5 separate regions of the Homo sapiens genome follow, and all the other regions are linked to region 5. Evidence: fine-mapped expression QTL. A gene starts in region 5. Each other region holds a variant in brackets. All regions are shown on one strand. Distances are between the middles of the regions.

Region 1 (5,104 bases), 150 kb before region 5:
ATTTGCTTTGAGTTTTGTTTTATATGGTCTGTCTGAACATTGTTTTAGTTGTGGAAATGCCTACTGGCCTCTGAGGGGCTTTTGTTGACTGGACCTTCCCAGTTTTTCTCTCCTTTCTTAATGCATTTACCACTTCAAAGGAACTCTCAGCTTCAGGCCAGGGTCAGGCTAGAGGGTGAAACACCTACGGGATCAAAGAATGGTCTTCTGGGAAATTTTAAGCTAGATTTTAGTTTATGGCAGCTTTTAACCATTCTATACATCCCCTTGTCCTTACGTGGGAGATAATAAAGCTTTTGTGTATAGCCAGATACAAGGATAGATGAAATGCTGCAGGTGATTTCACTTGCAAAGAAGGAAGGAAAAAAGCTGGGAGGAGGGGGCGGGTGTTTATATTCACTGTTGAATTCCACTGGTGGCCTCAGTAGGGGGAGCTGTAGAGAAAAATTAGAAGGTGCGATGGGAAGGAGAGGTGTGGACACAGGGGGTGTCTGCATGAGTGCGTTGCTTAGAGCAGAAACTGCCCAGAACATTGTATCTTCACTGTCACATAGATTACTCTGTATTTCCAGATTTTCCTTTTATTATACTGTATTTGATCATAAACTGAATATTTCTTAATACTTGCCACCAGCAGCCAAACATTCCCATTATTTACATTAATGATGAGTGTATTTGATACTCAAACATGAAGTTATATCCCACTTCCTTCAATCCACATGCTAATAGTTGTTTACCACATAACACACTAAAAAAAATCGTTTTTATCTTGAGTTATCTTCCAAAGAGTTGAAGAAAAAAAGCAGAAGAGAAAAAAAGGCTACAGGTGGTTTAGTGATATTTATAATCATTACTGGAATTCTTGTGCCTGAGTGAGAAAATATCCCATAGGAACATCGATCTTTGGCTAACTGATCAAATTCCAAGGTATATTCTCTGTTGAGCACGTGTATTGTTACTTCAGTAATTATTTTGATGCAGTCATCAATTTAGGCACAATTCCTAAAGTGTCTTTGAGAGTATGACATTAATCTTCCACCAACACTTTTTCTTGTTAAAGAGCCATGTTTATACTCTGTGGTTGTCAAAGAGAAAGGGGGATAATACATAATATGATGTGCAGCCTCTAACAACCACGATGTGTGCATTGTCATGATATTCAACTTACTTTTTCATTCCATGCCCACAGTCCAATTCCAAGAAATGTTATTCCCAAAAACTGAAAAAGAAAGAAAGCAGTGTAAATATAAGGGAAAATGCCGCTAATATAAAGAAGAAACTTTTCAATCAATTCTTTTGTCACTTTACCTGGCTGGGAAATAGCTTTTCCTAAAGTGTGAGCACTTATCTTTACCAGGAAAATAAATACCATAATCCCCCTACTTAAAATTTTTACAGCATTAAGAAGGGCTGGAGACACACAGTTGGTTAGAAGTCATTCAGATTATGAAGAGTAATAATTAGGTAGAATCCTGAGTACACTGAAATTATCAATAACATTTAATATGCTGCCTTTTAGGGTAGGGGAGGAAACGGATTCCCCATGGATCTGAGGCCTGTGGTCACTAGAAAATGGATAAGCAGAGGCATTAACTTAGAGGAACTGGGATCTTCTCTTCAGTATTGAGCCATTACAAATGGGCCAGGTCAGCGAGGGGCATGTAGAGCCTTGGATGTCCCTCTTTGATCATGCCTTCCAAAGGTAACAAGAATCTTATCAATGTAACCCAAAGAAAATTCCTAAGTTCTGTTTTCAGAAACTTCGATTGTGTAAATTTTAGTTCAGAGGACCTCCCACCACCCTTCTTGGTTTTGACTCAGTTCCACAACTTCATGCATACACAGAGTATACAACACATGGGACTGAGTTACGCATTCAGCCCTAAGGCAGAGGCACATCTCATACATACCCACAAATCTCACCGTTCTGTCAATTAGCTGTGTTGAGGACTGGGGGAATGCCAGGAGAGGAACAGGTGATAACCAGGAGGGCTTTCCATTTTACTGTTTTTCTTTTTTTTTTTTTTTTTTTTGAGATGGGGTTTTACTCTCTCACACAGGCTGGAGTGCAGTGGCTCAATCACAGTTCACTGCAGCCTCAACTACCCAGGCTTAACCGAGCCTCCTGCCTCAGCCTTCCAAGTAGCTGGGACCATAGGCGCATGCCACCATGCCTGGCTAATTTTTCAATTATTTGTAGAGACAAGGCCTCACTATATTGCCCAGGCTAGTCTCACACTACTGGGCTCAAGCAATCCTCCCGCCTCGGCCTCTCAAAATGCTGAGATTATAGGTGTGAGCCACCACTCCCGGACTAGGGCTTTCCATTTTAATTAATTCTCACTGTATTCCATCTGCTATAAGATACATATATTTTCCCCACATTTGAACACATCTGAAATTGGGATGTATCTTAAAATCCATGGTATCTCATA[AT/A]TTTTTCCCCCTTGATATAGAAAACAATGGAGTGTTTTGTAACTGGGGCGACACAGACTTGATGACACATTGTACAGAGCTGTCCACCCACTAAAAATCCAATGATCAGGACTGTGTGTAATTGGCCATGAGTAAAGATATGCTTCATCTTTATTATCAATAGCAACTCTCAATTTCCTTTCCAAACACTGAAAAGAGACAAGAAGTTTCAGTGTGATGGCAGCACACCGTTTATTTTACTAACATCTTGATTAAGTTAATGTGAGGAAAGTGGTCCACTGAGAGGGGTATGCAGAGAAAAAAATGAGTGAGAGTGGTTATTTTTTACAGTTCCAGGGAAATCCGAGACCTGCCCACTGGGCAAGGGCTTCACTGTTCTCAGCAGGGAGTTCCTGATACTTTGTAAGCAATCACTAATAAATCCAAACGGGACTTGGACAGATGGCAGGAGCAGAAAGAAAAGGGGACTGACAAAAGACAATTAGCTGCTCCGAAAACATAGTGGTGTTTTTAAAAAGCAGACCTTCCCGAAGCTCTCGACACTCATCTGACATTGAAGCAAGACAACACACAATACATTCTGAGCCCTATACAGAAAATCATGTCCTTGATTTGGCAAGAACTGAAGACCCCTTTCTTCCTACCCCTTGCTCTTATAGGGGACTCCTTGGAAAGTGTTCAGAAAGATTTCTCGTTTTACTATCCCAACTGAAAAACCGTGCTCAGCCCTGGTCAGAGAGCTATTTCATTTTACATTTCAGATCCAAAACAAGTGAATCTCCAAAAGACTCAAAGGTACTTAGGACTCTGTAGCACAAAAGTAAAACAATTCAGCATGTTACTCTCATATTTATAGGTGCTGGGCAAAAGAGAACGACCACTGACAAGTGAGTGTACAGGCTCCCATGAGACCTAGGAAGCACAGAAGCACAGAGTTAAGGCTTTGACTTCAACCCATTGACATCAAACACAACCCAGTGAAATGGCTGACTTTCCAATGCTGAAGCTCCTCATGGACAAATGTTTGGTTATTTTCCCTGACGCAGTATTCACTGTCCCTCCTGCTGCTGATGGTGTGGACATGTTCCTGCCGAAGGCCTCTGCTTGATCGCTAAGATTTGTTTTTATTACTTTCCAGGCATCATGCTTAGTGCTTTGTGTGCAATGTCTCTTTAAAGCTTCACAACAATTTTACTCTGAAATAGGCGCTCTTATTATCCCCTTTTTAGGAAAGAGGAAAATGAGGTTTAGAGAGTTTAAATAACTTGCTCAGAGGCACATAGCTTCTAAGCAGAGGAGCAGAGACTTGAACAAGAGAAATACATGTTCTTAGCAGTCCTGATAAATTCCCCTTTGCTCCCATGATATAAAAAGTTGAGGCATTCAGGCTGGAATTACATGGTACATGATCAGCATATCATATATTCCTCCCCCAGCAAGCAAAGGGGTGTGGAAAAGGTAAAGAGAGATAAAAACCTTGCCTTCACATAAGAACTGGCTGTGGAACAGAAATTCCCCACTTTGGTGTCCACAATGGAGTTAAGCAAAAGAACAGAGAAATTCAATGGTGGGTCCACATTCTCCTTTTTAAATAAAGTTTTCGTCTCTCCTCTTGGCACTTTGAGACAACTTTTTTCATTCACGAGCCATATAAATAGCTTGGAAACCAATGGTTTTCCATAAAGAGGAGAGAGAAAAAAAGTAGGGATTTAAAGAAGACTCACAGACAATTTCCTTTATAATCTTGCTCCCATATTTCCTGCTTTGACTGTGACTTTCCAAACAAGGGTTTAAGAACTGGGAAAGAACACAATTTGAAGTTAAGGGAAACACTCAATACCTAAGCAAGCAAGTGGTGCAAGCCTGGGCCTCAACTTGATACATACCTTCAGTGCTACATCACTAGCAAATGTCCTCCCAATTATTCTCAGACCATATGTTTTGTTTTAAAATCAAGTTGTTCCAGTTCCCAATAATTAAACAGAGAAGAGCCAAAAAACAGAGACAGGCATGCAATACTTGAGGCACATTCAGTTTCCCCTTCCCACCTCCCAAAGAAAAGACAACCATAAACCACGAAACTGACCTCATTCTGAAACCCAGGGAGGCCCACTTGCAGGAAATAGCTGAGAAGTCTTAAAGTCAACCCTTTACTCTTTTGAAATGGAAAAAAATATATCTGAGGCATCTTATCTGAGGCATCTTCCCACATGGCAATATATGCAAATGTACAGTACAAATGTTTGTCAACCCAAATTTTGATGTTTTAAAATAAATAACAATAATTTTGCCGGCATTTGTTGAATGCTAAGTATGGCTAAACTACAGCCACGTGTTGCTTAATAAAGGGAATACGTTCTGAGAAATGTGTAGTCATGCAAACATCATAGTGTACTTACACAAGCCTAGATGGTACAGCCTATGACGCACCTAGGCTATATGGTATAGCCTATTGCTCCTAGGCTACAAACCTATACTGCATGTCACTGTACTGAATACTGTAGGCAACTGTAATACAATGGTAAGTATCTGGCATCCAAACGTATCTAAACATAGAAAAGGCATAGTAAAAACACAATATAATAATCTTATGGGACCACCATTGTATATGCAGTTGGCTGTTAACTGAAACATCATTATATGGCACATGACTACTGTTTCAAACTGA
Region 2 (5,104 bases), 100 kb before region 5:
TATATCTGTAGTTGTTTTTCAGCTGTCTCCCCTAGTAGGCTGTATGCATCATGAGAATGGAGACCATGTCCATCTTATCCACTTGTGTTTCCCCAGCACAGTGCCTTGAATACAGAAGGTATTAAAAAAAATTGGCTGTATGAATGATATTTCCCAACCCCTTAAGTTTTCAGGTATTATGCTAAAAGGGTAAATATAGAAATAAGTAAACAAGTAGTTAAAAATTAAAAATTAGCTTGAATACAAATTTTCAGACTGCTTTCATGTGCCTTGCTTTACCCACAACCAGCGGTAGCAGCTTCATGGCACTAATGACAAAACAATAAACCAACAGCTCCTCAGTAATCTGACCTACCCTGTTAAACAAAAAGGATCCACCACACTGTTAGGATATCCTTAGCAAAAGCAAAGCTACTAATTCATTCTTTTCTCCTCCCTGCAAAAAGACTGAAAAATCACTCCACACACGCGCGCGCACACACACGTGCGTGCGCACACACACACGTGCACAGCACACACCCCCACACACACAGCACCCCCACACACACACACACACACACACAGGTAGGAATGGCTCTTCAGCACTGAACTGGCATCTTCACCTACTACCCAAACCACTGGGACTTCACAATCCTTACACACTGTCTTGGCCCCAGATGCAGAGACATTTTATGCCAAATCTGTGGGTGGAAAAGTCAATTCCATCCTTCCTGTAGAAGGATACACAGATGATTGTTATACAACTTTAGGATGACCCATGCTTTCCTGTCTCAGGAAGCTCCCAGAGACTCCCTAACTGCATCTCATTCACCCACGTGGTGGGTTTCAAACTTGCTCTGATGATAAAGCACTGGGAAGCAGAGCTGCCTATTGAGGAAAAATATGAAACACTGAGATACTTTGCTTCTTTTTATGAACGAGGAATAATTTTTCTGGCAGAAATGGCAGTATATGAATGCCATCTAAAACCATAGCTTATACGTACCTGGCAGGGGAGATTATTTCAACCCTAAGAAAGAATAAAAAAACACCATACCCTAAACTTGCGTGTTCTCAATAAAATAATAGAGTTATTAAACTAACTGGTTGTGTCCAAATTTTTCTGTTAACATTCTTTTACTACTTATTCATTCATTTTCACTAATACTCACCAAAAGAGATGTGGTAGCAAATGCCAAACACTTATGAAATGTTGACAGGAGAAAAACATGAAACTGAAAAAGTTTCTATTAGCCCATTTTATTTTCCTTCTGTGGATTGAGATAGGCCATTATTCATTTTTAGCAGTGGGGACTACTGGGCTGGGTCTTTTGAAGTCCAATTATTATCATTCTTTGCCAAAGATAAGGAAAATAGACTTCTATATTTTGAAGAAGTTTCTAATTCTCACCAAGTTTATACTCATCAAAAAGTGAAATGATTATTTCAAAATAAATTTGTTAAAAATTATACCAATATTTTGAAAGAGCCAAGAAGCCAAATGACCCTTATTACCACATTGTATTATAATGTGCATAAATGTTAAACATGAAGTAGTTTAAACATTGACTAAACAGAAAATCTGGAATCATATACTCTTATTGAGAGCAACAAAGTCAAAGCCAATTATGAGACACCAAAGGATGTCTTTGATAGTAACACTTTAAAAATAAAGATAATAAAATAGTACATTTTATCATACTAGCGTTTTTATTTTTCTAAACAGAATACACACTGTATAGTAACATATAAAATACAAATAGGTCTGTGGTCTCCAAAAATGACACTAAATCAACTGAAGCAGAAGAAAATGCACAAATGGTATTAAATCATGACACAGAAAAAGAGAGGGTAGCATCTGGCACTTCTGGCGTGCTACTAAGAACACACTCGGGGAGGAATACAAATTCTACAGTCTCTGAACTAGGCAGGGTGGCTGCAATTTGGGAAGCTGTTTTTTTCCCTTAGGTAGAATAAAATGTTCATCAGACCACATTTGTAAGTATTCACTCAATAATGAATACAACAGTAACCATTTTAACATCCAAGTAGTTTTTAAAATCACACACTTAGAAATACAACTGAGAATTCCAAATAATTTATGTAAATATTCTGCCCACAAC[T/C]GGGAAGGGCAAAATTCCCCATTCCTTATGCAAGGGCTGTACGTAGTGGCCTCCTTCCAAAGGAGGTGGGCCGAGTCACTTTACAGTGGAGAAATCTGGCAGCGGATTGCATCGGCCACGTGATCAAGATTATGTTGACATGATCACATCAGTGATAAGTCATGTTGACAGGATGTACCCCTGATACAACAAAAATGGCACTTAACCTCTGTGGGTCTTCCCCTAGTCTAATCATGAGAAAAACAACAGACAAATCTGAGGAACATTCCACAAAATACCTAAACACTATTCCTCAAAACTGTCAAGATCATCAAAAACAAAAAGGTCTACGAAACTGTCACAGCCAAGAGGTGCCTAAGAAACCATGAACAACGTAATGTAGTGCCCAGGGTGAGATCCTGGAACAGAAAAGGACATTAGGTAAAACCTAAGGAAGTCTGAATAAGGTACAAACTTTAGTTAATAATAATATATCAATATTGGCTCATTAGTTGTAACAAATGCAGTATATTAACATGTAAGGTGTTAGAAATACTTGTTCCCCGGTGACGCAAAGAAACAGCACTCGAACATAAATTTAATCATCTTAGCAAGGCCATTTTTATTAAATGTATGTTCGAATGCTCATACATTTATTTCTCTGCAGCACCAGGGAACAAGCATTTCTAACATAAGGTGTTAGTAACAGGGGAAAATGGGTGCACAGTAAATGGAAACTGTACTATCTTTGCAACTTTCCTGTAAATATAAAACTCTTCCAAGTCTCACACTGTCCCCCTGGATCTCAATCTGCTGGCTAAGTAAATCCATACTGAATTTAGAACAGAGATTATTAGGCAAAAAGTTTTTAAAGTTGCAGCGAAGGGAGGGTAAACGGCTTGTGCACCGCTGCTAGCTAATATCCACAGCTTCCCCAGGGACTTTAATGTGGTGGCACTTGAAGAGATTGGTTTGCCAATCGATGGGCTGCTTTTGAGGCTCTTGATTAACATATGTAGAGTTCCAAAGTGCCTTGAAAGCTTTCTATTATCTCAGCACTCCAAATGCAGTTTCTAAATGCTGATATTCAGTTTCAGCTTTTTCCAGTTTCTTCTTCAGCCTTCCACATTCATGATCACCTGTTCACCCTTAGCGAGCCTCAGAGCAGAGTGGAGTTGCTTGAAACCCATGTGGGCAAGCTGACCTACTGTGGATAGGCCAGAGTCTAACTGAGGGACAGCAAGATTTTCAGATGGTCTTTAGACAACAAATTGAAAATGGTAATTCCTTTTCTTTAGCAGCAGGGCATAACCTGTGAATGTCTTCTTGTTTAATCTCCCAGCACTCTATGATGTAGGTCCTGTAAATGCCCTCACTTAAATAACAAAGACACAGAATAAGCCAGAAGAAATAACTCCCTTCAGAGTGGCAGAGCAGAATCCTAACCCATGCCTCTTTGCCTAAAACCTGTACTGTCTCTGGCTTGCATGTTCCCTTCCATGAATATAATGCAGTAAAACACCGTGGGAAACAAGCCTTTCAAGAATTCAAACAGTATTACTAGACAGTAACGACACTAAGACAATTTCCCTCCCATGTTTTCTACAGCAAAAAGGAATCACTATTCTGGTAAAAATTTCCATCAGGCTGGGATCTTCCTTTCCAGTATTTCAAATTTGGAAATCATAAAAAATAACTTTAAACACAATACAAATGGCTAAACATGACCGGATATTCAACATGAATATTACTGTCATAACAGGGTAATGGGGTGATATAATGACGGGGAAAAGTTAGTATCTTTATTTATCTCTGTCTTTTTGCAGAAAGGAAGGAAAATTTATAAATCTGAGTAAGAAGAGTATAATAAAGAAATGGTTAAGTAGGAGTTCACAAGAGGGTTTAAGCCTTTCTATGTGCTAAAATATGACATACACACTCTATTTTCTTGAACACTATTTTAAGGCAACTTTTTTATTATCATTAGTTACTGATTTTCCTTGAATTACTTTAATAACCACTATTGGAAATACTCCATAACATAAGTAGGCTCGAAAAGCTTTTCTGCATTTGCAAAAACTGTAACCATAGACAAGCCATAGCCCCTGTATCTTCAGACAGAATCTGAACATTTTTAGCCCCTGTATCTTCAGACAGAGTCTCAACATCCAGGTGCTCCTCTAAATTAAAGCTTAATTTTCACAATTGGTAGAAAGCAGAAATTTGAGTCAACCAGCTGTTAACAGCCCACAGAAAACCAGCAAGCAGACTTAGTTATTTTTTCCTTAAGTGTAGAATAAATTGACTGACTGTATTGAGCTGTTTTTGTGTTTCCCCCTCCAGAGATGTCACTTCCCTGAAGAATTTCCACCAACATATAACCAATCCTTTCAAAAAACAGGCGTTCTCTTAAAATTAATTCTTATCATTTTCTAATCCACAACATCTTAAAGTGGAAAATGTAATTTTTCTAAGCAGAAGTATATTTTGTTTGTCTCCAAGTAGATTCTAAATTCCAATCAGATTTAGTCCAAATGCCACTTAATGACTTTGTGTTCCAACCCAGATAACAAGACAAGCTGCTAACTTACCATTTGGTGACAAATACCTCTTTCTTCAAGTTTCCCCCACTGGTGTTATTATTAGCAATGAAGAGAGTGGCTCATAAGCAGACTTTTTCAAAAGCTAAAGCAGAGCAGGGTAAATTTTCATCCCTCATGTTTTCCCCATAATCTGTAAAATATTTCACTTAGATTATCATGATTTTCTAAAACTTTAATATATTTACTACAGGGAGATTTTCTAAATATGCTGTTAATTAGTTTGTTCATTCCACAAACATATTTAATTGCTTCTAAATGCTAAGCACAGAGAAATAAAATTGAATGAGATTGAAGAGACTAATATCTTCAATTGAGGGAGGCAGGGGGCGTGTTTTCCTTGTTTAGGACGTGCCTCCAAGGCCTGTCTAGCATGAGGCTCCGCTCAGCAAATATTCACTGAAATGTGAACAACAAAGCTCT
Region 3 (5,104 bases), 47 kb before region 5:
CCAATGAGGATGCTGATGATTTTCCTCCTCTCCACTGTTCAGAGGCAGCATGCTTCTCTCCAGGAAAAAGAAAAAAAAAGAAAATCCACAACATGTTGCCACTGTTAGGGGGGAAATAGACTATGTAAACGCAGTGCTGTGTTTTTAACCACTAAAAACCTCACTGTGTCTTCTTCATCAGTCTCTCTCCTCGACAGTTCTCTCTGACTTGAAGTTGAGGACTTTTCCCACTAAGTCCACAACCTTATACTCGCCCTCAGAGAGATGTTCGTTTCTTCTTTTCCCCACCACACCCTGTAAACTCTTTTCTGTCGCTCCCACAGGAAACAAAACAAAACAAAACTGTAGTTACTAACACATGGCACTTATTTCTGCTTACTGAGCAAGGTATCTCTTATCATAAAAACCAAACTTTACCTCTCACTCTCTTGCACGAGACTTACATTTAGAGGGTTTCAGGTAGCAAGTCAGGATTAGACTAAGAAATCACAGTGGTCTAGAGGGTAGTAACAGGAATGGATGCAAAAAAAATGAAAAGAAAAAAAACCCAACAGCTACCACCACTAGACCAAGATTTTCAATCCCCACTGTAACATTTAAATTCAACTAAGAAACCTTAAAATATATACACATACTGCTGTCCAAGCCCCATGCCTGACTATTTAGGTCGGATTTGCTGGGGGTGAGCTCTGGGTGTTGGGAGTTTTTAAAGCTCCTGCGTTACTCTATTGTGCAGCCAGAGTGGGGCGCACCCAACCCCGACCACTGGCTGGGGGAGAGGGCCAGGGCAGTGCTCGGAATGCTGGAGGTAAAACCAGATGGCATCACTGCTTGTCCCTTTTTGCTGGTCCTCCTGGGTAGACATGATCACCCAAGTCAGGTGTGTACAGGCAGCCCATTCTCTGAAAAACAGTGGCAACAGCCAGCAGCCCCTGTAACACAGGACACAAGAGTGGAGCAGTGAAGGAAGCTCCCCACGAGCACTGTCCTGAATACAGTCTCCAGCCTCTCGTGTCCAGGTGCAGGTCTACTCTGAGCAAGCTTTCCTTTGCAATGTATTGAAGGACAATGTCTCTGGGTGCTTAATTACTCTCATCAGCACCACCTCTCAGTTCAGGGGTAATGTCCCAAACTCCTCTTCCCTGGGTGGTCAAGGCATTATCTGTCCCTTACCTAGGGAGGCAAGAAGACCCCACACCCAGAAAGGCAGGTCTGGGAGAGACCAGGGGAGACAGGGCTGAGCCTGACGGACAGTGAGTTGAAGGATTCTGAGCAGAAGGGGAGGGCAAAGGTAAGTCAGAGGCTGCCTGACTGATTTCTCTGGCTTCATAAGCAGAATGCCTTGCCTCTTTCAAGCAGGAGGGCTCCTCATTTAACACAAACAGGCTAATATAATTCGCAGAGGCATTAGCCCAGCTGCTGTACAGCAAAGGCCCCGGGCCTAGACAGCCTTCTCTCCCTCTGAGCTCATCTTAGTCCATTCTGTGTCACTATGACAGAATACCACAGACTGGGTAATTTGTAAAGAAATAAACTCATTTCTCACAGTTACGAAGGCTAGGAAACACAATACCGAGGAGCTGGCATTTGCAAAGGGCCTTCTTGTTGCATCATCCCATAGTGGAATGCAAAAGATGAGGGGCAGCAAGAGATCGAACTCAGCCTCAAGCCCTTTTATAATCAGCACTAATCCCCTCATGAGGGGGAGCCCTGATGACCTAAACACCTCCCATTAGGCTCCACCTCCCATCACGGTTACACTGGGGACTAAGTTTCCAATATATGCTCTTTGGGGGACACATTCAAACCATAGTAGAGCTCCATTCAGTTGCTACCAGTAGGAAAAATCTTTCTTTAACAACTTAATGACAGGTAAATCAACTCCAACTTCCCTCCTATTTGAGGTTCAAAATTATCTACATAAGTAGGCCCTTCATGATGAGCAGGGCTGGCCCTGGCCATCTTACAGGTACCTTCAATTACTAGACCACACAGCACCCAGGCAAAGAACTGGCGCTCAGCACGTATCTGTCGAGTGAATGAACTGGTTCCAAGAAGCATATTCAAGCGTATGTACAAAGAGCTGCCTATTCATTTAGGGCTACAGTAGGAATATAAAATGCTCTGTGGTGCCCCTTCATTATACATCTCTGTTAGCTAACAACTCACTTAGGGCTGCTCACCCACCCTAAGGCTGTTCAGGGAGGAACGAGGACTAATGTGGTAGTCAGTGCCCCGGCATCCTCCCC[G/C]CTACTCTTTTTAGTACTGAACTCCCCTAGCTCTAGTCAGGCATGTGATTCCCCCTGACCCCGCTCCCCAGGTATAGACTATATTTCCTAGGCTCCCTGGGAACTAGGTTTGTTCCTGTGACTATACCGTGATGTGATATGACTCGATGTAATGTGTCCAACTTTGAGGTCACCCTCTTAAAGACACAGCCACTTGCACCACTGGCTAAGACATGGTGACAAACGGAGCCATCTGGACAGCCAGGCATGGAGGAAGGCAGAGGAACTCCTCCAACCCTGACTTCTTAACTCTGGACTACGATCTGAGGACACACTGTACTACTCAGGGATGTCCTTGTCACAGAAGAGATTAGTCCACACCTTAACATATTCCAGAAGGAATATGAGAACCTGTTTTCCAACCCTGAAACAAGCCTCTAATTTGTCTAGGGCAAGTGAGTTAGCCTCCCCCTTGCACAATTTCCTCCTTTATAAACTGGAGATGAAAGCACCCGGTCAATTTTATTAATACTAAGAATCAACTATTAAAGCACAAATGCATTGAAATGTGATGTGAAGCAGCCTCTGTGAATGAAACTATATCCAGGCAGCACACACTGGTGGGAAGTACTGCCCCAGAAGGAAATCTGCCATACCAGAATATTACTATTTTTGACAAGAAGCTGAAATGTGAGCTCAGCATAGCATTATTCTAAAATAATGAAAATATGCCAGATGCTTACCAACATGAACTGTACACACTGATTGCACAAATATGTCCATTAAAACTAATAACACACCAGGGGAGAAAACAAGCTGCCTCGTCTGTGAAGTGGACCAATCATAGTTTCAATTGTGCCTTACCAGGTAAGAACAGGGTCTTCCCAGGCAAGAATGTGCGACCCAGAAGTCACTGAGGTTTGTCCCAGGCAGGGCTATCACCAGCCCTTTTGGCACCTCTGAAGGAGTCAAGAAATGGGCCTGGTGATTTGCTTGCGTAAGAAACAGAAAAGAACACCCTCTTCCTCCAGACTGACCCAGCTCCATCCCCTGGCCTGGGCCGTGGAGGGTGGCGAGTGGGCTGCATTTCAGTGGATTCCACCCTCATTTGCCCTTCAGCCAGGAGCCCTTGTGTAGGGAACCACCACACAACTGCATGCAGGGCCTGGTCCCAAATTTACAATGCACATGGCATTGTTATCAATAATGTAGTTAGAACTAATGTTTCCTAGGAATCCTAATTCTACACAGACACTGTCACCTGTCAGTAAATCTGCCAGAATTCCCTCGCTGGAAACTGACGTATATTTTATTCCAAAGAATAACTAAGTGAATGCTCTTTCCCATCTCTCTTCCATCTGAAGAGATGAGAAGCAGGAGGAAGAGGAGGGGGAGGAGGATGGGGAGGTGAAGGGAGAAGAGGAGTGGGGAACAAGAGGAGCAGGAGGAAGAAGCAAGCAAGTTCCAAGCAATACAAAAGGGTTGTAGGTGAATGAAGGCTTACAGCCCAGTCCTGCAAGCAGCAGACAGGATGCAGGGAATGAAAAGGCTGGAAGACAACAGCCAAATATCAAAGGATTTACAAGAACAATGATGTATCCTTCAATTAAATTCTTTTGCTTAAACTAATCTTTCAGTTCTTGTCATGTTCTCAAATGAAATCCATTTACAACTCCCAACACAAAGCCATCAGACACCCTAGAATTTGCTTAGCAGACCTAAACAGTGACACTGCTGTAACTGGCAAGGACCCCTTTTCTTTTAAAGGGACATTTTGGCAAGTCATTTCATAACCAAGACACTAAGGAGCACAGAATAGAAACAGCAGGCCACCTGCCATCTCTGCCAGGAGCACCATCCTCTCCCGCTCCCCGCGGGGCTCCCCCCGCTCCCCTATCTCTGGCCACAAGTCCCAATCATCTCAGCTCTTCAAACCCACCAAGCCCTCTCCACATCAGGCCTCCCTTACTCTGTCCCCTCAGCCTGAAATGCTCCTTCCTCCCTCCCCCCACAGGGCTAACCTCTCCATCCCTGAGTTTTCAGCTGCGGTCTCACTTCCTCAGAGCGGCCTTCCCGCCCATCAAAACTACATTCTTTCTGCCAGTCTCTTACCCCGTGTTTTATTTTTTCACCGTAGCACTTATCACAATTTACAATTATGGTTTTTTCCCCCTGCAGTGTTTATCATCTGGCTTCCTCACAGACGTACACACCAAGAAGTCAAGAATCATTTCTGTCCTCTTCACCATTTTAGATGGGTGCCCAGGCCCAGAACTGGAGATTAAGTCACAACACATCTGGGTTGAGGGCAAAACCTTTTTTTTTTTTTTTTTAATTCCACGGGTGATTCAGATGCACAATGCCCTTTTGAGAGAAGTACTAACTTGACATTTTCCTAGCAAATTAATATACTGAAATACCAAGTAAATCACTCCATATGAAAGAAAAAATTTACAGTAATGCTACAATTTCTGATAAGCACAATCTCTTCATAAAGCAGCAGGCTTACAAATGTTGCCTATGCTTTCTCTTATGGTATTTCCAGATATGTTTACTAGACCATAAGTTATTGTAATAAAACCTACCCAGGATATTATGGTTTCAACAAGCACACAGAAAAGGTATTTTGCAAATGAACAAGAATCCATATAAACTAGGCTAGTTTAGTAGTTGCAACCATTTTACCCATAATCCTGTGCTCTCTAATTATGCAAATATGGCCTCTGCAAAACACCAAGGTCCAAAATCCCTTCCCTTATAACACAACAGGGTCCCAGACTGCTTACTTCAATGACTGTTAATATGCCAACCTTTCCCCATAAAATTCTCTAGTCCCTATTGTAAACATCAAAATATCTGCCATACAACCAAGAAAA
Region 4 (5,104 bases), 30 kb before region 5:
TCTAATGAATGCTGGTTTCCCAGTGAAGAAATCTGCATCACTCACGAACAGCCCAGGTACATGCTGGTTTCCCAGTGAAGAAATCTGCATCACTCACGAACAGCCCAGGTACATCTTATGTATTCTAAAGGTTGAAGACCACTGAGTCCCCTTTATGTGCTAATAGGACAAACAGATACACAAAGGGCTTATCATAACCTCCCATAATTGATCTTAAATTGATCTCTCTGCTTCTAACCTTGACCCCATCCCTACATACCTGCTTATTCCGTAAACAACAAAAGGATTTTTAAGGCATAAGTCAGATCATGTAACTTCTCTGCTCAAAATTCCCCCAGAGTTTCTCATCTCCCTCAGTGGCAACAAGCCTAGAATAATCTCCCTGCTCTGCCTTTCTGACTCATTTCCTACCACTCTCCTCTCCCCTCCTGCTTGGCTCCAGCCACCAGACCGCCTCCTCCTCACCCCTGGCCCACCTGGTGCAGCAGAACCTTCACCCCTACAGGCTCCCTCTGCCGGGACCGCTTTCCTGCAGCTAGCCCCACAGCCTGTTCCTTCCCTTCCTTGGGGTTCCTGCTCCACAATCACTAGTGTGGGAGGCCTTCCCTGGCCACTTTATCAAGAACCTGCCCATCCCTTTTCCTGCCTGATTCGATCCTCTTTAGCGTTTATCACTATCTAATGATCTAATGTACTTGCTGTTTTACTTATTTTTTCTTGTTGGTTATCTGTTACCCTCCACTAAAATGTAAGCTTCATGAGAGCAGGTTTTTTTTTTTTTTTTTTTTTTGGTCTGCTTTGTTCTTAAATGTATCCCATTTGGCACGTAATAGACATCAAAAAATATTTACTGGCTAAAAGGATGAATGAATATCATCAATGCTCCAAAAAAGGGTACTTGATTAATGAAGCATTGTAAGAGAGAGCAACCAGCTTGGGGTAGGGGGCAGAGCGCCTAGCTCTCCTCGTGGCAGGTAACACTAGTGGGGTTTTCAAGGAAGGACAGAAAACATCTCCTAAGAAAAGGAAGGACATTCTACACATCAGCTGGCCTGTAATTAAAAGTGTCAGTGTCATGAAAGATGAAGGAAGAATGAAGAATGCTTCTAGAATGAAGGAGACTGGAAAGATATGACAGCTGGGTATGAGTGATCCTGAACCGGATCCTTTTGCTATAAAGGACGTTACTGGGATAACTGGAGAAAACTGAAGGGATTTTATCAGTGAAGGTTTATAGGAGTTCTTATTTTAGTATTTTTGCCATTTTCCTGTAAGTGTGAAGTTGTTTCAAAAGGAAAAAAAAAACACAAAAGGAACCAGAATAACACGAGTAAATGCAATGCATCAAATGATCTGTGAATAAAATGCCCACTGAATAAAACAGGGAAAAACAACAACTATTTCTTCCAAATGTTCCTATTTCCCTTACTCCCCCATTCCTCCATGAAAAACTTTGGGCCTGTATCATCTTGGCTTAGAGTCAGCCAAATACGGTCATTCTTCTTTAAGTATAAATGCAAATAAACCCCCTGGATTTCAGTGGGAACACAGCATGCAGCAGAACATTTGTGTGTATAAACTCTGTAGTAAATGACATCTCTCTTCTCCCTACAGAGTAGAAGCTTGATCTCCATGAATTGCTGTAACTCAAAACATACTTTTTACACAAAAATAATGATGGGGTTGAAAATAGAAAAAGTAAATCTTTGGACTGGACTGCTGTTGTGAGCCAAAGAGAATGATTAAATATAAAACAAGAGGGAAAAAAACAACAGCACTAGGTTATAAAAGAACAGATTGACATAGATTTTTTGAAACTGGAAGTTACAGGCAACATGCCTAGAATTTAGATAACAGTATTAAGGACTGAACACTCATCCAAACATCTACAGCTCCCCTGACAGGTCAAATTCCATTACAACAAACACCAGTGCAATAATAATCTGAGTAATCCAAAGCATTCCTGGTTAACGACCTCCTTAACTCAAGCAGTATGCAATATCTAACACCATTCCCCATTTTAAACACAAAAGTACAAACGTAAATACAGCAAGTGATTGTTCACTGTACAAAAGGACTCATCAGAAGTCTCCATAATAAGGTATAAGGGTTTTTTTCAACATCTAGACTAGTGTTTGTGGGGCCATTTTTTAAATACAGAAAAAAAAATTAACTTACATGCAACTTTTGAAGGACATGTCTAGATACAGTGGACCCAAAATGTTAACAGCAACTGAAAGCAAGCACAAGTTTAACATGACAACAGGAGCATCTATAGATTGACTCATGTACCTCCCAAGTCCCCTACTTTCCTCTGTAATGTGGGGTACACCACACTGCCTGGTATTGGTTTAATTTGAATTTTCTTCCAAATTATTAAAGTTGACAAATTCTCATTTTTTAAATATGAAGTTCCAGCCTCTCCTGGAAAATGGTTAGATCTGGCAACACAGGTACAGATTCCTGGGTCAACCAACAGCTAATGGAAACCAGCTCCCTGATAGGCATGGCAGAAGCATTGCTGACCCCTTTACCACACTCCCCATCACTCCCTATTGCATTCCCAGCACCCTTAATGGCTTATTTTCTGCCTGGTCCTTCTAAGCATAGGAATCTGCAACACCAGCTTTTAAAACAACTAAAACAAACAAACAAAAATTACTACTCAACTTGCTGATATATCAAAACTGAGCTGTATCATACATTGTCCTATGATACATTGTACATTGCAGAGAGAAGGCATGCTAAGTTAATATTATGGATAAATTACTTTAAGATTTCTCTAAATGACATTCTCACAAGCATCCCTGGCAAAAGGCAACATCTATAATCTTTAACTGAAAACACTTTGCTTTGGAAATGGGAATGCTTTGAATGTACCTTAGCTTATCAAA[G/A]CATAAATTTACTTGTTTTTAAATGAGTTCAAAACTAGCCATCATAGTTATTTATGTATATGTTACTGCAATTAAATAAAAAGGAAAAAATGCTTATAAACACACACATATTATCCTGAAACAGAAACAATAAGCATAATTACTCTAAAGTGGCAAAGAATGGATAATTTGTCTATGAACTATTTCACAGTCTTTGAGTTGTACTGTGTATTACACATAACCAGAATATCTTCAGTCTCAAAAAGACTATTTCTGAGCACACAACCAAGATTGCAGGCAAGTCACACAACCCCTCTGTGCCTCGATGTCCTCATCAGAATAATGTGAAAAATAATAGTGCAGACATCTTAAAGGGTTACTGGGAGGATTAAATGAGCTGATACATACAAACAGCACTTATAACACTGCCTACCACTATTGCCCAACCTTGTATCAATCGACACACTAGCCTAAAATGCTGATAAATTACGTTCTCCTAATGCAAACATTCTCATCTCTGCTCTGGTTTGCAGAATGAAGCAGTCTCCTGGTCTTTTATCCAAAGCACACTCCAGTATTATTAATTTAAGTTGCTGCTAAATCTCAAAAGTCATTAATAAAATGTAGTGATTTCTCAAATGGTTTATGGTCAGCCACTCTAAGAGGTACTTAATAGAAAAGAATTAGCTCAAAGCTGGTATCCAGATGATTTATCAAAACAACTATCAGGTTTAAAGAAAATCCCCAGGGCAGTAAAAACCCAGCATTCAAAAAACACCAATGAAGAAAAAGACTGTTGCTATTCACAAAGGTACAGACTGTTAGTGAGTGAATAAATGGAAGAATAAATGAATGAAGATCAAATGGGTTATTTGCTGCTGACCACAAACTTATGCTTCCCTTTCAAAAAAAAGTATTTTTAATCAGATCCTCTGCTTATATTTGTGTCATTGTTAAACTGTCTTGTCATACTTACATAACCAGGTAATAATAATCTATGAAAATACTCGACTAACCAACCCAAACGCTTTCCCTAAATCTTAACATATGCACTGACTGCATTTGGTGTGGTCAGAGATGGGCCCTGTCCTGAATTCACGCTCGAGTTGGGGAACAAAACTAACCAACAAGGATTAAGTGGTAACCTCTGAGTATCTACTAAACAGCATCAGAGTTCCTGGAGGGTTATGCCCAGGGTAGGCTGCAAGGGTGCTCAAAGTGAACAAGAACAGGACAAAGGCAAAGCAGAGGAGGCACCAAACGAAAAGCACTGCAGCTGTTCCAGCCATGAGGCCTGATGGAGAAAACAACATGGCACATGTTCTGCTCAGCAAATCCCTACCCGCCTCCAATACATACAGCAGCACCACCTCCTCTAAAACATTCCCTCATTACCTGATCTTTAGACTTATACACCACTTCTCGTTTATGTGTGTATTTATTTATATGTTTTTCCTCCATTGGACTGAGAGCTCTCAAAGCACAAGAATCACCTTAATCCATCTTGTATTGTCATCCGAGGCACGCATATTCCCTAAACATCCCTGGATTGAATGAAGATGACTTAGCAAAGGGAGGGATTCTCTCAACCCGGGAGACTGTGCACATAACTAGAAAGGGAGGGGCCCACGGAATCCAACGCCAAGCTTCCTGTGCATTGGTGCTACCCAGGAGAAAGGAGTGCCCCTGTCCTCAAGAAACTTAAGTCCACTTAGATCACAAAAAGTTCTCTGAGAAAGTATGTGAAGGGCTCTATTTAGACAGCTATTTATTACTCTGAATTTGAAGCCCTCCTCCCCTTGAAGTAAGGCCTACTGGCTTAAGGGCCCTGCAGAGCTAAAGATGTGAGGATAACTTGCCACTGGTGCTTAGCACAAATAGCGAATGAGAGTTCACTGGGAAGTACAAACGAAGGGAATCAACTTACTCATAAATCTCAACACCCTTTCTTTTGCTCACTGGCTGAGAAACTGCCATCTGGAAGGCTCAGCAGATAGATGAAAGGCATTATCACAGTTCTACTGGAATATTTCTGCTTGGCAAAGAACACAAGATGCCAGAACTTGAAAAAAATCATGTAATTCTGATGACCTCATTTCACCTTTCTTTTCAGCCAATCCAAATTCAGCCTGTTGTAGATATTTAACAATTAGAGAAACCTTGCAATTACTTTGCTGAATCGCTCGACTGGCAAAACGTCCACAAGGCCTGCGCATCTCCTACATTCTAAT
Region 5 (5,104 bases):
CAGGTTGGTGACTCTGTAGAGAGCAGAGGTGTGTAACTTTTCAGAAGCAAGCTGCCAAGCTACTGACCCCAGCTTTTCAGTCACTAACATCTTAGTCTGAATTACTTTAACCAAAACCATATGGTTGCCTTTCTGTTGATCATCACTAGAGACCATGGTACAATAAAGCAGGAAATTTAAATATGGGGTAATTTTGAGGCAGAGAGCAGGATAGGAAAGGTATGAGGGAGTATCTGAGAGGAAGGCTTTGGGCACAGAGAGGAGAGGAAGGGAAGGCAAGAGGCAGGGTAAGTGAAGGGCCCTCATAAGGAAGGCACTCACTTAACAATTCTGCCTGGGGCAGCTAGTTTAGTCCCATAGCCTAGGTCTCCTTTCAGGCTTCCCATACTCACCCACCCACCTATGAAGACCTTCACAATCAGAAAACATGCGGCTCTGTTCTGGACCTCTCCAAGCAAGCACTCTGCAATTCTTTGAAGCTCTCTACAATTCCAGGGGTTTTGCTGCAACCTAATCCATAGAAAGGGCTAAATTTGTCTCTATGCACTCCACAGAATTACAGCAAACTGTCAGGGAAACAGACCCAAATCCTTTTATTTCCTTACCACCCCCTGCTAGGAAACGGCAGAGAAAGTCCCTGGGTGCTTTTTGTTGCTGGGTAGCTAAAATGTGCAACTTTTAGAAATGTTCAAGTAGAAACAAGAGGCCTGAACTCACTACCCCAAAAAGAACCAGTCCCAGTTCGGTAGTCCGTGCCTCTCCAAGTCACAAAGTTTCAAGTTCCAATCAAATCAGAATATCTTACTCAAAACCGTGGCTACCCACCACTTTTAAACATTTTCACAAATGGAGAAGGGGCAAAGAAAGAAAATAATTCCTTCTTCCTGTACTTGTAGCAGTGTTTAATTGCAGGGAGGTGGGTGACTGCTCCCGGGAATCATGCACAACACTGGCAAAAAACTGCCTGTGGAATGATCGGATATGACATCCATTCATGTGTCCCCTCATTATCTTTATTAGTCCTGAAGACAGATGACATGCTGACACGGAAAGTGGTCTCCAATCCCTTGCATTTCCCCTCACAAAACATACATGACCAATGCAAGGTATTATAATAGAAAACAGAAAATAAAATAACCTGGTAAGAGTGCGGTACAAAAAAAGAATATGAAGAGCCGTATTGACAACTATTCTCACAGATGTATATACGTACAGCAAACAGCCCAAATTAAAGGAGAATTCAAATAAATACATTCCGTGTTCAGACTGCTGTGGATAATTATTGATCCTGCAGTTGGAGCATTGTTTACCTCACACTGAACAGCAACTTAGAGAACCCCCTACCCAGACAGCCACCATCTTTACTTTCTATGGAAATGCGGGTGCCCACTGAGGAAGAGGATGAGATGGGATGAGAAGGGGAAGAAAAATAACATGGTCTTTGAACCAACGTTTTCCCCTTGTCCTGGAGAACTCTTTGTCTGGCTGCTGAACACGTTTGCCAGATCAAGGAAAAGAATCAAAACAAACAAACAAACAAAAAGAGTAGGCGTCCCAGCCTAATTACAATAGGTTCCCAACACATTGCAGTCCCAAGCAGAGCATCATTTGAATCTTGTGTTAAAGCATTTGCTCTCTCGGTTCCCCAATAAAACATGCCTCGCACACCTTCTCCTTTGCATTTCTACAAAGGTTCCCCCAAACGGCCCGCTCTGTGTCACTCCTTTAAAAATGAGGACGTGGGGCAGGAACACACTGAAATATATGTTGACGGTGACTTATTATCCTGACGATGATATATACATACAAATAAATCCCTCTACCCCGCACCCCCACTGACCAGTCCATTACGCACAGGGAGCGCTTTCCAGCTGAAGAGGAGAGCGTGCAGGAAACGTTATTTACGTGCAATTACAGGACCATATACCACGGCATCTGCATCCTACACAAAGCCCGAGATGGTGCAAGAAGATACACGCTGAGCATGGCACAGACCAGCCGCGGCAACACGGAGCCAAGCCCTCGTCCAATCAGATCGTTGTTAGAAGGTGGACCTCAGGGTCGGCCGTGCCCGATTAGCCTTCCCTATTATGACACCACGCTCTGCCCAACATCTATATCCCACCGAGAGCAAATCCAATTCGTGTGGTTGCTCATTTCTCAAACTGCCGAACCCTTTCTTTTATCTGCATCCCTGCTATTCGTTCCTCAAAAAGCCACCAGAAGGCCTCGGTGCCCCCTTTCCGCCTCGATTTCTCTTTTCACCTCTTCCCATTCCTCGAAAGGATTAAATGTTTATCTCTCCAACGCGCAAGCTGGAAAGGCGGAAGGCGAATGCCTCTATGCTGCTCCGGCAAGCGCCTGCGGGGCTGCGAAAAGTAAAGGCAACGAACAACGTGGGGGAAATCGTCGCGAATCGATCGGCCACAATAGTTGGAATCCCAGGAGCGCTCCAACTTACCCAAAATATGACATTGAAGCCAAATATGAAGTATTTGATGCAACAACTGACTTCAGGACCCTTGTAGTGCTTCCCGGACATCCTCTGGGTTCATGAAGACACTTGCCCCGGCAGCCCGAGTTTGGAGCTCCGAAGCACCGTTGCTCGGAGCAGCCCGGCGGGGAGCAGGAGCTCAGGGACACCGCACGGGGCCGCGGCGCTGGCGGCCTGGGCTCAGCCGCGCGGGGACCGACCGGCGGAGAGCGGCTCCCGCACCTCCAGCCCCTCGCGCGCCGAGGCCGCCGGAGCCGGGGTGGCCGCGAGAAAGCAGGGAAGCCGCGCGCTGCAAGCTCAAGCCTCGCCGACGCTAGCCCCGAACACAAAGCGAGCGCCCGCGTCCGTGCGCCAGGCGGTCGGTCCGTCGGTTCGTCCCCGGGCTTCGGGCAAAGGCGGCCGCGGCAGATGCTGGTGGAGACGCCGCTCGCTTGCTCGCCCGCCCGTTCGCGCGCGCCCTCCCACCCCTCGCTCCGCCCGCCTCTCGCTCCGCCCGCCCGGCCGGCTGCTCCTCCGCCCGCGCCGCCCGCAGCTCCGCCCGCCGCCCAAGCCTTGGCTAGGCGCGCGCGCGCACGGGGTCGGGCGCTCCCGGGCGGCGGTGGCACCACGTAGCCGCCTCCTTCCACCGCTCGCTTTATCCCCGCCCCTTCTCGGGCCAACCCCAAGCGCCGCTGACCCCGAACGTCGCTGCGGGGTAGGTAGGGGGTGGGAGGGTGGAGGACCGCAGGCGAGAGGGAGAAGGAAGGGCGCCCGGGGAGCAGGCTGGCAGAGTGACCGGGATTGATGAGCGGCGCAGCTCTGGAGGGACGCGGGCGAGAGGGTCGCTCCTCGGGGAGAGGGCTGGGTGAGTGAGGACCTGCGAGCCACCCCCGACACCCCTTCCAGGGTAGCCACACTGGCGCCCCCTCCTCCACAACAGGCTTATGTGGCTAGAGAAGATGCGATGCCACTGGACAGGGAAGGAAAGTCGTCGTGGACTTCGCTGAATGGAAAAGGGGGTAGTTGGGGAAGGTGGAGAAAAGAGCCACGGGAAGTGGGAGGAAAGGATGAAGGGATGGGACGTTGAAAAGGAAAGCTTCCTGAATCCCTGTGTGACTCTAACCCAACCTCCCCACCTACCGGAGAAATGGGTTTTATCCTAGAAATGGGGACGAGGAAAAAGAGATGGCTCAAGGGAGTCCTGGCCCGGGATGCGATCCTCGCCCTAGGGTCTATTGCAACCACACAAACCCGGACAGCGCACGCTCCCCCCTACCCCGACAGAATAGTGCCTAAGAAACCTGCTTGCCTCCTAACTCTAGGAAGGAATCCACAACGGATTCCAGGGAGGTCTTCTGGGGAATCTGAATTGGGTTTTTGGATCACGAACCATTAAGCTTTTGAACTCTGGGGAAGAATAGAACAGGTGGCTGGAAATTGTTTTAGAACCCTACCTGAGCAGGTGTGCTCATTAGTTGCTTATCCGCCCTCCTCCTGGAGCACTTTCATAGGTGTTGGCAAAGCAGGTACCAGTATTTCACGGAAGGAGAAGGAAGAACCGCCCAGGACTGTGTATAAATGTCTATGGGAATATTTTTAAGGATTCAAAAGGCTAGAAGGAGGTGAGATCAAAAAATTTTTCCAGCACCACCCAGTGCAACCCGATCCTGGACACAGAAATCTAAAAGATGATACTTAAATACTTGAGTTTGAGAGCCTCTAGTTATAAGGTTTCCTACGTAACAACCTCTCACTTTTCTCAAAAACTGGCTAGTTGACAACCGGCAGTCAAGTTTTGGCTAGTCAAGAAGCTACTTTTTCCTGCAATAAACCACATTTAGAGATAGTACTGGGCTTCAGCAGGATTGAGGCTATATTGAGGTCGCAAGTATGAACGAGGTACCCACAGAGATGGGAGGGCCAGGAGATCCTACTCATTCAGTACCTCAGAAGCTATGACACGGGATAACAGTAGCTTCAGCCCTTTGGATGAAATAATCCTCACTCCCTCAAAAGTGCTCTCTACCCACTCAAAACACAGGCCATACTACCACCAATCTGGTAGACTTCAAAAGTAAGGTCTTTCAGCAGCAGATTTCCTTGTTAACAGGAAGGTACTGACAAGCTTTACCTAAGCCTATTGGAGCTATGTTGTAATTCTGTATATAAATAGAACAGTCGCTGCAGGAATACTGGATGAGTCAGAAGAAAGGTCTGTCCTAAGCTGATGTGACACATTTCAAAAGGACCAGAAATTAGATGCAATTGATGACTGAGTTGATCTCTAAGTGGATTTATCTTTGAAATAAAAATCAGTGGATATCCCATATACCCGACCCCACACCCTCCCCCATTGTCAACATCCCCAACCAAAGTAGCACATTTGCTACAAATAGTGAACCTACATTGCCAGATCATTATCACCCAAAGTCCATAGTTTACATTAGGGTTCACTCTTGGGGCTGTATATTCTATAGGGTTGGACAAATATAGAATAACATGAACCCACCCTCATAGTATCATAGTATCATACAGAGTATTTTCACTGCCCTAAAAGTCCTCTGTACACCACCTATTTATCCCTTCCTCCCCCCAGTCTCTGGCAGCCACTGAAGTTTGACTGTATCCCTG

Which allele goes with the higher level. Alleles are on the strand shown, and positions count from the first base shown. SD is a standard deviation of normalised expression in the study named.
As copies of AT replace A in region 1, the expression in fibroblasts of the gene that starts at base 2,927 in region 5 goes up (small effect, 0.15 SD a copy in GTEx).
For the expression in lung of the gene that starts at base 2,927 in region 5, C is the high allele of the variant in region 2 and T is the other (small effect, 0.25 SD a copy in GTEx).
For the expression in skeletal muscle of the gene that starts at base 2,927 in region 5, C is the high allele of the variant in region 3 and G is the other (moderate effect, 0.47 SD a copy in GTEx).
For the expression in unexposed skin of the gene that starts at base 2,927 in region 5, allele G in region 4 goes with a lower level than allele A (small effect, 0.11 SD a copy in GTEx).

The links. PIP is the estimated chance that this variant, and not a neighbour inherited with it, causes the effect.
Region 1: its variant is the best candidate, but not a certain one, in a credible set for the expression of TSPAN5 in fibroblasts (GTEx, PIP 0.59).
Region 2: its variant is the best candidate, but not a certain one, in a credible set for the expression of TSPAN5 in lung (GTEx, PIP 0.75).
Region 3: its variant is the best candidate, but not a certain one, in a credible set for the expression of TSPAN5 in skeletal muscle (GTEx, PIP 0.64).
Region 4: its variant is the best candidate, but not a certain one, in a credible set for the expression of TSPAN5 in unexposed skin (GTEx, PIP 0.71).

Annotation. Positions count from the first base shown.
Region 1 is chr4:98,506,510-98,511,613 of GRCh38, forward strand. It overlaps TSPAN5 (tetraspanin 5), which reads right to left. Exons shown (of 8, transcript NM_005723.4): 2 at 1,169-1,219. Among named protein-coding and RNA genes, the nearest start is that of TSPAN5, 150 kb to the right of the region's middle. The variant AT/A (reference allele first, on the strand shown) is at 2,436.
Region 2 is chr4:98,555,503-98,560,606 of GRCh38, forward strand. The region is part of intron 1 of TSPAN5 (tetraspanin 5); the gene reads right to left. Among named protein-coding and RNA genes, the nearest start is that of TSPAN5, 100 kb to the right of the region's middle. The variant T/C (reference allele first, on the strand shown) is at 2,103.
Region 3 is chr4:98,608,593-98,613,696 of GRCh38, forward strand. All of the region lies in intron 1 of TSPAN5 (tetraspanin 5), which reads right to left. Among named protein-coding and RNA genes, the nearest start is that of TSPAN5, 47 kb to the right of the region's middle. The variant G/C (reference allele first, on the strand shown) is at 2,250.
Region 4 is chr4:98,626,119-98,631,222 of GRCh38, forward strand. All of the region lies in intron 1 of TSPAN5 (tetraspanin 5), which reads right to left. Among named protein-coding and RNA genes, the nearest start is that of TSPAN5, 30 kb to the right of the region's middle. The variant G/A (reference allele first, on the strand shown) is at 2,895.
Region 5 is chr4:98,655,685-98,660,788 of GRCh38, forward strand. TSPAN5 (tetraspanin 5) reads right to left here and starts at 2,927. Exons shown (of 8, transcript NM_005723.4): 1 at 2,462-2,927. The coding sequence starts at 2,542. TSPAN5-DT (TSPAN5 divergent transcript) reads left to right here and starts at 3,218. Exons shown (of 3, transcript NR_148380.1): 1 at 3,218-3,338. It overlaps LOC112267901 (a long non-coding RNA gene), which reads left to right and starts at 3,039. Exons shown (of 3, transcript XR_939016.3): 1 at 3,039-3,188. RefSeq lists silencers at 2,492-2,651, 2,905-3,084.